Linked DNA regions of Homo sapiens: region 2 is linked to region 1. Evidence: fine-mapped expression QTL. A gene starts in region 1. The other region holds a variant in brackets. All regions are shown on one strand. Distances are between the middles of the regions. Region 1 holds the start of TRIM32 (tripartite motif containing 32). Region 2 overlaps ASTN2 (astrotactin 2).

Region 1 (4,395 bases):
GAAAGCGGGAATATACGGAGTTACAGAGATCTGGGTATGAGCTTAACTGTGTCATTCCTAGCTATGGAAACTTAGGCAAGTCACTTCCTAAGCCTTAGTTTCCTCATGTGTAAAACTGAATACAGTAGAGCCTACTTAGAAGGACTGTCATGAAAACTGAGTAAAGAAGTAGATACAAGACTAAAAATTACTAGATTTTGAGAACTTACTATGTGCCAGATCCTAGGCATGCTAGTTTACTTCACTAAATCCTCACAACAATTCTGTGACATTGGTCTTGTTATCATAACCCCATTTTACAGATGAAGAGCCAAGGCACTGGGTGGTTAAGTAACTCATTCAAGGCCACAAAGTCAGGAAGAGATAGAGCTAGGACTTAAAGTCAGGAAGAGATAGAGCTAGGACTTGAACCCAGGGTATCTGACTCTAGGTCAGAGTGCCTCAACTTTGGCATTACTGACATTTTAGGCAGGATAATTCCTTACTGCGGGGGGGAAGGGCGTATCCCACACATTGTCAAATGTTTAACATAAAACATTATGTTTAATGTTTAATCTACCCACTTGAGGCCAGTAGTATCCCCCACCCTGTGACAACCAAAAAACATCTCCAGACATTGCCTAATGTCTCCTAGGAGACAAAGCCAGACTTGGTTAAGAACCACTGCTTTACAGTCTAGCACAGGACTAAATGCTCAATACCTAAGGGTTCCCTTTTTTTTTTCTGGTGGTTGTTGTTGTTGTTTTGTCTGTCTCCGAGCCCAAACACCTCACTCACAGAGCCACTGCCCCTTCAAGCTGTAATGGATCTTATATAGGATAAATTATTCCACTCATTCCCCTGGAGGTCTCACTTTCTATCTGCTATCGTAGCTTGGGGGTACAGGGAAAAAGGGCTTAGGCAGATGACCTTGAATAGTTCCACTTCTTCTTCCCCAAAGCCTACCACTTTCAGTGGGCCGGGGGACCGGTGGTCAGAATGGAGTTAGTGGCAATACCATACCTGCCTCATGATAACGGATCTTTGTTTAATAAATGAAGAAGATTCTGCCCTTCACAGGGATTACCACACTCCTTCAGGATTATCTGAACTGAAGATTTATCACTTTGTTCCTCAGCACCTGAACTCTGCTCATCTTCATATACTCATCCAGTTTCATACATTACTTTTAGGTCCTTGGGTCCCCTGAACTCCCTCTGTCTCCCATGCAGCGATTTAAGGAAAATCTCTTTAGCAGCCCAAGACACCAATCCACAAATCTACTCAGGGTCCTTTGATTTTATAGCCCAGTTAGGACATCTCCACCCCACGATTCAATCCTCTCCAAACCCTGTCCCCAACCCTCTTACAATTCCAAATTCCAATCTTTGGGGCTGTATATTGCAACCCTCGTCAATTCCTCACTCATATGCCCCAAATCCCTCGGACTCAGATCGTTTAATCCCTATTTCCAAATCTCTGCCACACTCAGCCCCGCACCTCAGTTCAACGCCCCAATTCCTCACCCCAGATTTCTGCTCTCCCTCAATCTGAGCCCCCATCTCCTGCATTCCATCGGGCACTGTGCTGCCCTCATACCCTGCTCCTTCCTCTTATGCACTGAATGTCATGTGCTGCCTTCACACCTCAGCCAGCTCCCTTCTTTCTGCTAACAAGATAGAGTCCCTCAAGAACTCACCCCACCCCCTCAATCTCACCCTCAGCCCACTCCGAAAACCCTTTCTCAATAGCACTTAGGATCGCCCTAGACCTTGCTCCTATCATCTCAGACCCTGTCCTTGCCAGATGCCTAGCGCCCCCAGATTTCCTCAAATCTCATCGGGGCCCCCCAGTTCCTTCATATTTCTGAAATTCTGCACCCAGGTCCCTCCAGGGCCCTGATTCCCTCCCATCTCCCACATGCTACACCCCGTTCCTCCTCAGGGCCCCGACATTACCTCATACCTCCCGAGATGCTGCAACCGCAAATCTCTTCAGAGCCCCTCGCTCCCCTCCCCCAGCTGCATCTCCTCGGATCTCCTCAGCCCCACGAATCCCTCCCGAGCCTGCCCCTCGCAGCCCCACCCCCACCCTAGTCCTGCCCCCCCCAGATCCGGTCCCCACACCCTGCCATTCGGGCGCGGCCGCTGCACGCCGGCACGTTCCCCCGCCTGGCCGCTGAGCCACGGCCCACGACTCCGGCCGCGGTCCCCAGTCCCCAACCCTCCTTCCCGCCCCCTACCTGACCGCCCGCGGCTCCGACGAGTCCACCGCCGGCAGCCCACCCGCCTGCCTCCCTCTGCGCACGCGCCGTTGAGCACCCCTTGCCGGGCGCCAATTCGCAGAGCTCCCTGTCCGTCACTGAGCCCCGCCTCCCCAGCATGCTGGGGCTTGTCGTGCAGCTGGCCCCAAGCGCGCGGGGCAAGGCGGCCCTGCAGGGGTGAGCTTTCCTCTGAGAACCCGGGGCCTTAGCGACACGTAATCCAGTTTTCCGTCTCCTTGGTGCAGATGAAGAAACCGACGCCCATGGGCGAAAGGGACCTGCTCAAGTTCACTCAGTAAGTCAGGAGATAAGCCAGAATGCGTATCTGACTCCAGTCTCAATGTCTACCCCTTCACAAAACGGTAGCCTCCAGGGTAGTCCTCAGCAAAGCGTTGGCACCTTACTGAATCTGTTTTTCCATCTGAGAAATGGGCCAACGGAAAAATCAAACTTCCATTCTGGGGAAGTCGAGAACCGGGACTCCCTAGGAAGGGCAGTGCTTTGGCCTCATGTTCTGTGCTCTGACAGAGAGCTGCACTAGAGACAAGTTTATCCATGAACACATTGCTCTGTAAAGGAATGTTTTGCCTACTCAGCTGGGAGGCCGACAGCAGAGGCAGACTTGGGGAGTACACTCTGCAGCCCCTGTCCCTGCAGACTGAAGGTACCCGGGAACCCAAACCAAGTGTAGTTTTGCTCGGGTGAAGGTGGAGGAATCTTACCAGGTGGGAGGTGATCTGGCCTGAGATTTGAGGGAATCTGGGGCACTAGGCATCTGGCAAGGACGAGGTCTGATACAGGACTGGCTGGCCACGACCTGCAGTCCCTGAAGTAGTTTGGGGCCAATCACCTACTCTCCAAGGTGACTATACTGTACAGCTTAGGAGCACAAAGGAGTTTGAAGTAGGATGGACTTGGATTTGAAATTCCCCTTAGCTATGTGACCCTGCACAATGATAAAACAATAAACAAAAACAATGACTAACATCTTTGAACACTTGCTGTCTGGCTACAGCTGAGGACTTCAGGTGCATAGCTCACTAAATCCTCATAAGGACCTAATGAGATAAGGCAGCTGATGGTTAACCTACACCTGTTGTGTAACCTAGGTGGTTACACAAGGCCACATATACCTAAGTGTTGGAGCCCAAATTTGTACCCAATTCTATCTGAGAACCCACTCTCTTAACCTTGTTTACTCTTTCTCCCCATTTTCTAAATTTCTAATTGAAGTTTGCCATGAAGATAAGCCAAGATTATGGTAGTTTGCACTTAATGATAACTATATTTGAAAAATTGTAATTAGCAGGTAGGGGATAAGGGAGAGGTAATGCCAAATGATTTCTCACTTAGACCAGTTGGGGAGACTTTGCACCCGTTTAAAATTTTTTTTTTTCCTGAAAACCACAGTTATCAGCCCAAAGTATAAATTTAGGACTGTTCATAGTCTTACATATATACATATTATATATGTGTGTATATGTATCAATACAGACATACTGATGTTTCCCTAATTACAGAGGAGTGTTAAAAATACTCCTGGGGATCTAGCTCAAGCAAGTGTCTTGAAAAAAAAAAATCTCTCTTCTCCCTTAAAACAAAAATCAGTGTTTGACTCTTCTTTAATGTTTATTACCAGTTAAATGAATTATTATACCTCTCACAAAATCTTAGAGTAGAATAAGCATTCTAGGAAATGCACTCAATTTTTATCTTATAGCTTGACATATCCTGGCACAATATTAGAATTCCTCTTACACAGAGGCATTTAAAAAATAATCTTTGTGGAGTGCTTTAAACACTCTTTATTCAGCATTTTAATGTAACAGATTTTTATTTAACACTTAAATCACCTATATCAGTGGAACCACCTGAGGAGTTTACCTTGCCCACTGCCTAGACAGAGCTGATTCATCAAGACAGGGGAATTGCAATAGTTAAAGAGTAATTCACGCAGAGTCAGCTGTGCGGGAGACTGGAGTTTTATGATTACTCAAGTCATCTCCCTGAGCATTTGGGGAACAGAGATTTTAAGGATAACTTGGTGGGTTGGGGGAAGCCAGTGAGCCAGGAGCGCTGTTGGTCAGGGATGAAATCATAGGGAGTCGAAGCTGTCTCCTTGCAGTGAGTCAGTTCCTGAGTGGGGGGGCCAC
Region 2 (4,395 bases), 33 kb before region 1:
ATGAGGAGTTTACTTTACTCTCATTCCCCTAAGTGTTTCTAAAGGTACATTGTGTGGGAAAATAAAGTCATAGTTATTCATTGATTGTCTGAACATTTCCCAACTGCTTTTTCTCTGTATTTTTTTTTGTGTGTGCGTCAGATGTTGTGGCACCAAATAAAGAAGATATAGGCTCTGTTCCTACGTTGTTCATTACCAGCATGCCTTAGTATCCCAATATTTCATCATTTTTGTTACAGACTTTTAAAAATCCACTGGTAGACAGCTGGGAAGAGGGAGGAGGCCAACATTTCCAGGCTGGTTGGAATACCCAGTCACTATCATATTATGCTCTCTAGCTTTCATGTGCCAATTCTGATCAACTAGGGAATGGCTTGTCTAGAACACTGTGTGTAAGTTATTGGGATCATTGAGATGATCAGTTGGTAATGTCTATTCTAGACACAGAAAGGAAGTATAGTGGTCTAGATCCTCTGTATTTTCTTCCCTGTAATAGGGCAAAAATAAAAGCTAGAATAACAGACCTAGTTTTTGATGTTGATTCCAGAGGGGGCACTGGGCATGCCAATAACCACTGGTAAGATCTCCAGGCAGGAAGGCAGAGTTTTATATCACCAGGTGGGAATTCTGAGCTTTCCAGTAGTCCGTAGGGGACTGGAACACCGAACAGGTCAATAAGGTAGAATCTAATGCAGGAAGAACTGGGCCTTAGGAAACAACTAGAGCAGCCAAAGTCATCCCTGGAAGCTCTAGGTTCCAGACATGATTAGCATGGAAGCTGTTTAGCCTGTCAGGTTTCTTTAGCCATCACCTCTGCTCCCGTGCCATTCCCCCAAGCAGTGTGTGAACTTCTGAGTCTCTTCCTCTAGCATAATACTTTCATTACATGCTTCTGTGCTCTTGATATCCCTGTATTTTGAAAAAACTACCTTCTTCCCACTGGGGCTCCATTTCACCCTTTGACTTGATATTCACGCATTCTCCCTAGCTGTGATCATGATACATGAGCTTTATATCATGATGAGGGTTCACTGTATAAAGTCACCCTTCCTGTGGCTACCTTGGATAAAGACTTTCTCATTTGGAGATAAAGCACAGGTTTTACAATCAGATGGATCTCAATTCAAATCCCAGCTCTACCTCTTCCCAGATGTGTGATCTTGAGCAAAGTGATTCATTCTTTAAGATCAGTTTTTCCATATGCAAAATGCAAAGTCATTGTATAGATGGAATAAGAAAATAGAGCAATGGATGGACCCATCCAGCTCTGAGTTGAGGGCCTAATTATCTTGATCCAACCCATGCCCTCCACCCAAGGCTGCCACATCCACTTCGATTACTGTGTTCCCAGGTGTGTATGTTTGTGTGTATGTATGTGCGTGAAGGCACACATGTGTGTGGGCAGGGGTGGGGCTTGCTAATTTGCTCTCATCCCTTGTCATCGTTGTGACCCAGGATCAAGGGCAGAGGTAGATTGTCCTGGGATTGGGAGGGGCCTCAGTGAGTTTAGCTACAGGCTTGGAGCCAGTGAAGGGAAAGAGCTGTGGAACTGGACTGGGGAGATATCAAAAGGAATCTGTAACTTTTATCATCCCCTGTCATTCTCTACTTAGGGAGGATAGTGATAGATGCAGGAATTAGAAATATAATAAGTTTTTTGAATTTTTAATTGCTTCTTTTTTATAGAGAAACTGACTATGGAAGGTGACAGATGTGTGTATGTGAAAGAATTGTTCATTCTGTGTGTGTGTGTGAGAGAGAGGGAGGGACAGAGAGCTAGAGCAAGAAAGAGAGGAAAAGAAAGGCAGAGAGAGAGAGAGAGAGAAAAGAGGGGAGGGGAGGAGGAGACAGAAAAACAAAGAGAGATAGACAAAGGCACACCAAAATCCACAAAGAGAAATGGCGAGATAAAGAGAGGCTAGAAGTGAAAGAATGCTATGCAATTAACATGTCTTTTCCAAGTGTACTGCCTAGGTGACCCCTGTGGAAGGACATTCTCTATGTGAAGTTTGCACTGCTCCTGAGTTTAGATTGGGAGAGTCCATGGTATAGAAATGTCCCCACAGATAAATACATGTC[G/A]CCACTTTTAAAAGGTGTCTTATCTCTATTATCATTTTCCTAGACTGTCCAAGGGATTGCATTTCTGCACTTCCATTTGAATTACAATGTGCTTTTGAATGTCAGCTGAAACATTCCCAGACTACTTTTTAAAGGAGTTTTTGGCTGTTTAAAAGGCATCTCAGGGGTTGTGGGTGGAGGAGGAGAAGGGAATGATTATTCAACTGTCGCCTTTTCTTTGAGGACAGATGTGGCCAAGGGGCTGATGAGAGCTGGATAATTCTCCAGAGCCTTCAGTTTCCCGAGGGAACTTGCTTTTAAGATGGCAACAAGATATGAACGGAGTTGTTCTTAGGGTCTGAGACCTGCAAGGTCTTGGTTTACTTCCTCAGTGATTCAATATCCTGCGGACAGTTTTCGGGTTCCATCTTGCTTGACCTTTCAGTAGGCTTTGACAAAGTTGTCTGCTTCCTGTGTGAGGCACTTTCTGTGTTTGTTTCGGTGATACTAGATCTTCATGATTTTCTACTTCCCCTCTGGACTGTTGCATCTCTGTCTCCTCTGCAGGTTCATCCTCTTCTGCAACATTAGTAAGTGAAGTTTCACAGGAGCCTGTCTTATGGACCCCTCTTTCTAGACTTGTTTCTATGGTCATGATCTCTGTTGTAATCCCCACACTGATGAGTTCTACTTTATACCTCCAACATCAAGCTTTCCTCTGATATTTGCTATCATTCTAGTTCTCTTGCCTGCCCAAACTCCACTCCACACAACCTAATACTTTTCTAGTGTTCTAGTGAGAAGCACCATTATCTGTTTAGAAGCAGAACCAGAAACCTAGGAATCCTTCTCAACACCCTCTCTCAAGATCTGAGAGCACTGACTTCAAATTGCTTGATCCCAGGACAGTCACCTCTGAATCTTAACTCCTTAATTTTATCCAAGGTGAAAAATCTCAGCCTGGCTGCATTTGTCTGTGGTGGTGGGAGTTGGCTAACTATCCCTTCCCTCTCCCTTTGTACCTTAGTTTCTGAGAAGGTCTTCTGCTGATTTCAGCCACCCATTTCCAAACCATTTCAAGTTCTGTCAATTTTAATTCTCAAATAACTCTTAAATTTGCCCACTTTTTTCTTCCTCACTGTTGCCACCCTATTCCAAGTCACCATCATAGCTTGTCTGGATTCCAGCTTTGTTCTCTTGCCTGGTCAGCCTGCATCTACCCTGCCTCCCTGAATCCTAACCACACGGCAGCCCTGAGGATGTGTATTAGCCAGGATAACAAAACCAGAGAAACAGAACCAACAGGATGGATATGTAGCGAGAGACTTATAGGCAGATATATATATATATATGTACAGATACAGGTATAGATATGTAAATATAGATATAGATGATATAGATTTATTATAATAAATTGTCTAACATAATTATTGAGGCTGAGAAGTTCCAACATCTGCAGTCAGCAAGCTGGAGACCTAGGAGAGCAGATGGTGTAATTCCAGTGTGAATCCAAAGCCCTGAGAAGTGGGAGAGCCAATGCTATAGTTCCAGTCCGAAGGCTGGCAGGCTTGAGATCCAACAAAAGAAGATGTTTCCATTGGAGTCCAGAGGCAGGAAAAAACCAATGTCCTAGCTCAAGACATTCAGGTGGGAGGGTCAACCTTTTGGTTCTATTGGGGCCTTCAACTTACTGGTTTAAGTCCACTCACATTAAGGAGGACAATCTGCTTAGTCAGTCTACCAATTCAAATGTTAATCTCTCCAAAATCATCCTCACATACATAACCAGAATACTATTTGACCAAATAGTTTGATAACCCAGCCAAGTTAACGCATGAAATTAACCATTATAGGATGTTTCTAAAATAGAGATCCCATCATGTTATTCCTTGGATTAAAACTTCTAGGTGCCTTGTCACTGCCGTGAGGATAATTTGCAAATTCCTTCCCATGGCCTCAGGGCTCTAACAGTTCTGATCTGTCCTCAGCCAACCTCTTCAGCCCTGTGTGTCTCCGTGCTTTCTGCCGTTTTGTCATACTGACCTTCCTTCAAGTCCTAGAACAAGCTGCAATCCTTTTGTCACTTGGCCTTCTGCTGATTTTTTTTTCCCATTTTTGCTGAGATCACTTCATATCACCCAACTCAAATGTCACTTTCTCAGAAAACCTTTCAAGAAGCCTCAGGCTATGTCAGGATCCTTTGCTACATTCCTATTTTCTTAGAATGATGTTCCTTTGCTACACATAACCTGTTTGTAAGTTCACATTTATTAGTTTACATCTTTCTCTCTTGCTGCACTATAAGCTCTGTGAGGGCAGGGACCATGCCTGCTTGGC

Evidence for each region. PIP is the estimated chance that this variant, and not a neighbour inherited with it, causes the effect.
Region 2: its variant is the best candidate, but not a certain one, in a credible set for the expression of TRIM32 in whole blood (INTERVAL, PIP 0.52).

The regions. Positions count from the first base shown.
Region 1 is chr9:116,685,208-116,689,602 of GRCh38, reverse strand. TRIM32 (tripartite motif containing 32) reads right to left here and starts at 2,298. Exons shown (of 2, transcript NM_012210.4): 1 at 2,222-2,298. The region is part of intron 16 of ASTN2 (astrotactin 2); the gene reads left to right. RefSeq lists enhancers at 1,822-1,871, 2,312-2,631 and a silencer at 2,042-2,241.
Region 2 is chr9:116,717,991-116,722,385 of GRCh38, reverse strand. The region is part of intron 16 of ASTN2 (astrotactin 2); the gene reads left to right. Among named protein-coding and RNA genes, the nearest start is that of TRIM32, 33 kb to the right of the region's middle. The variant G/A (reference allele first, on the strand shown) is at 2,080.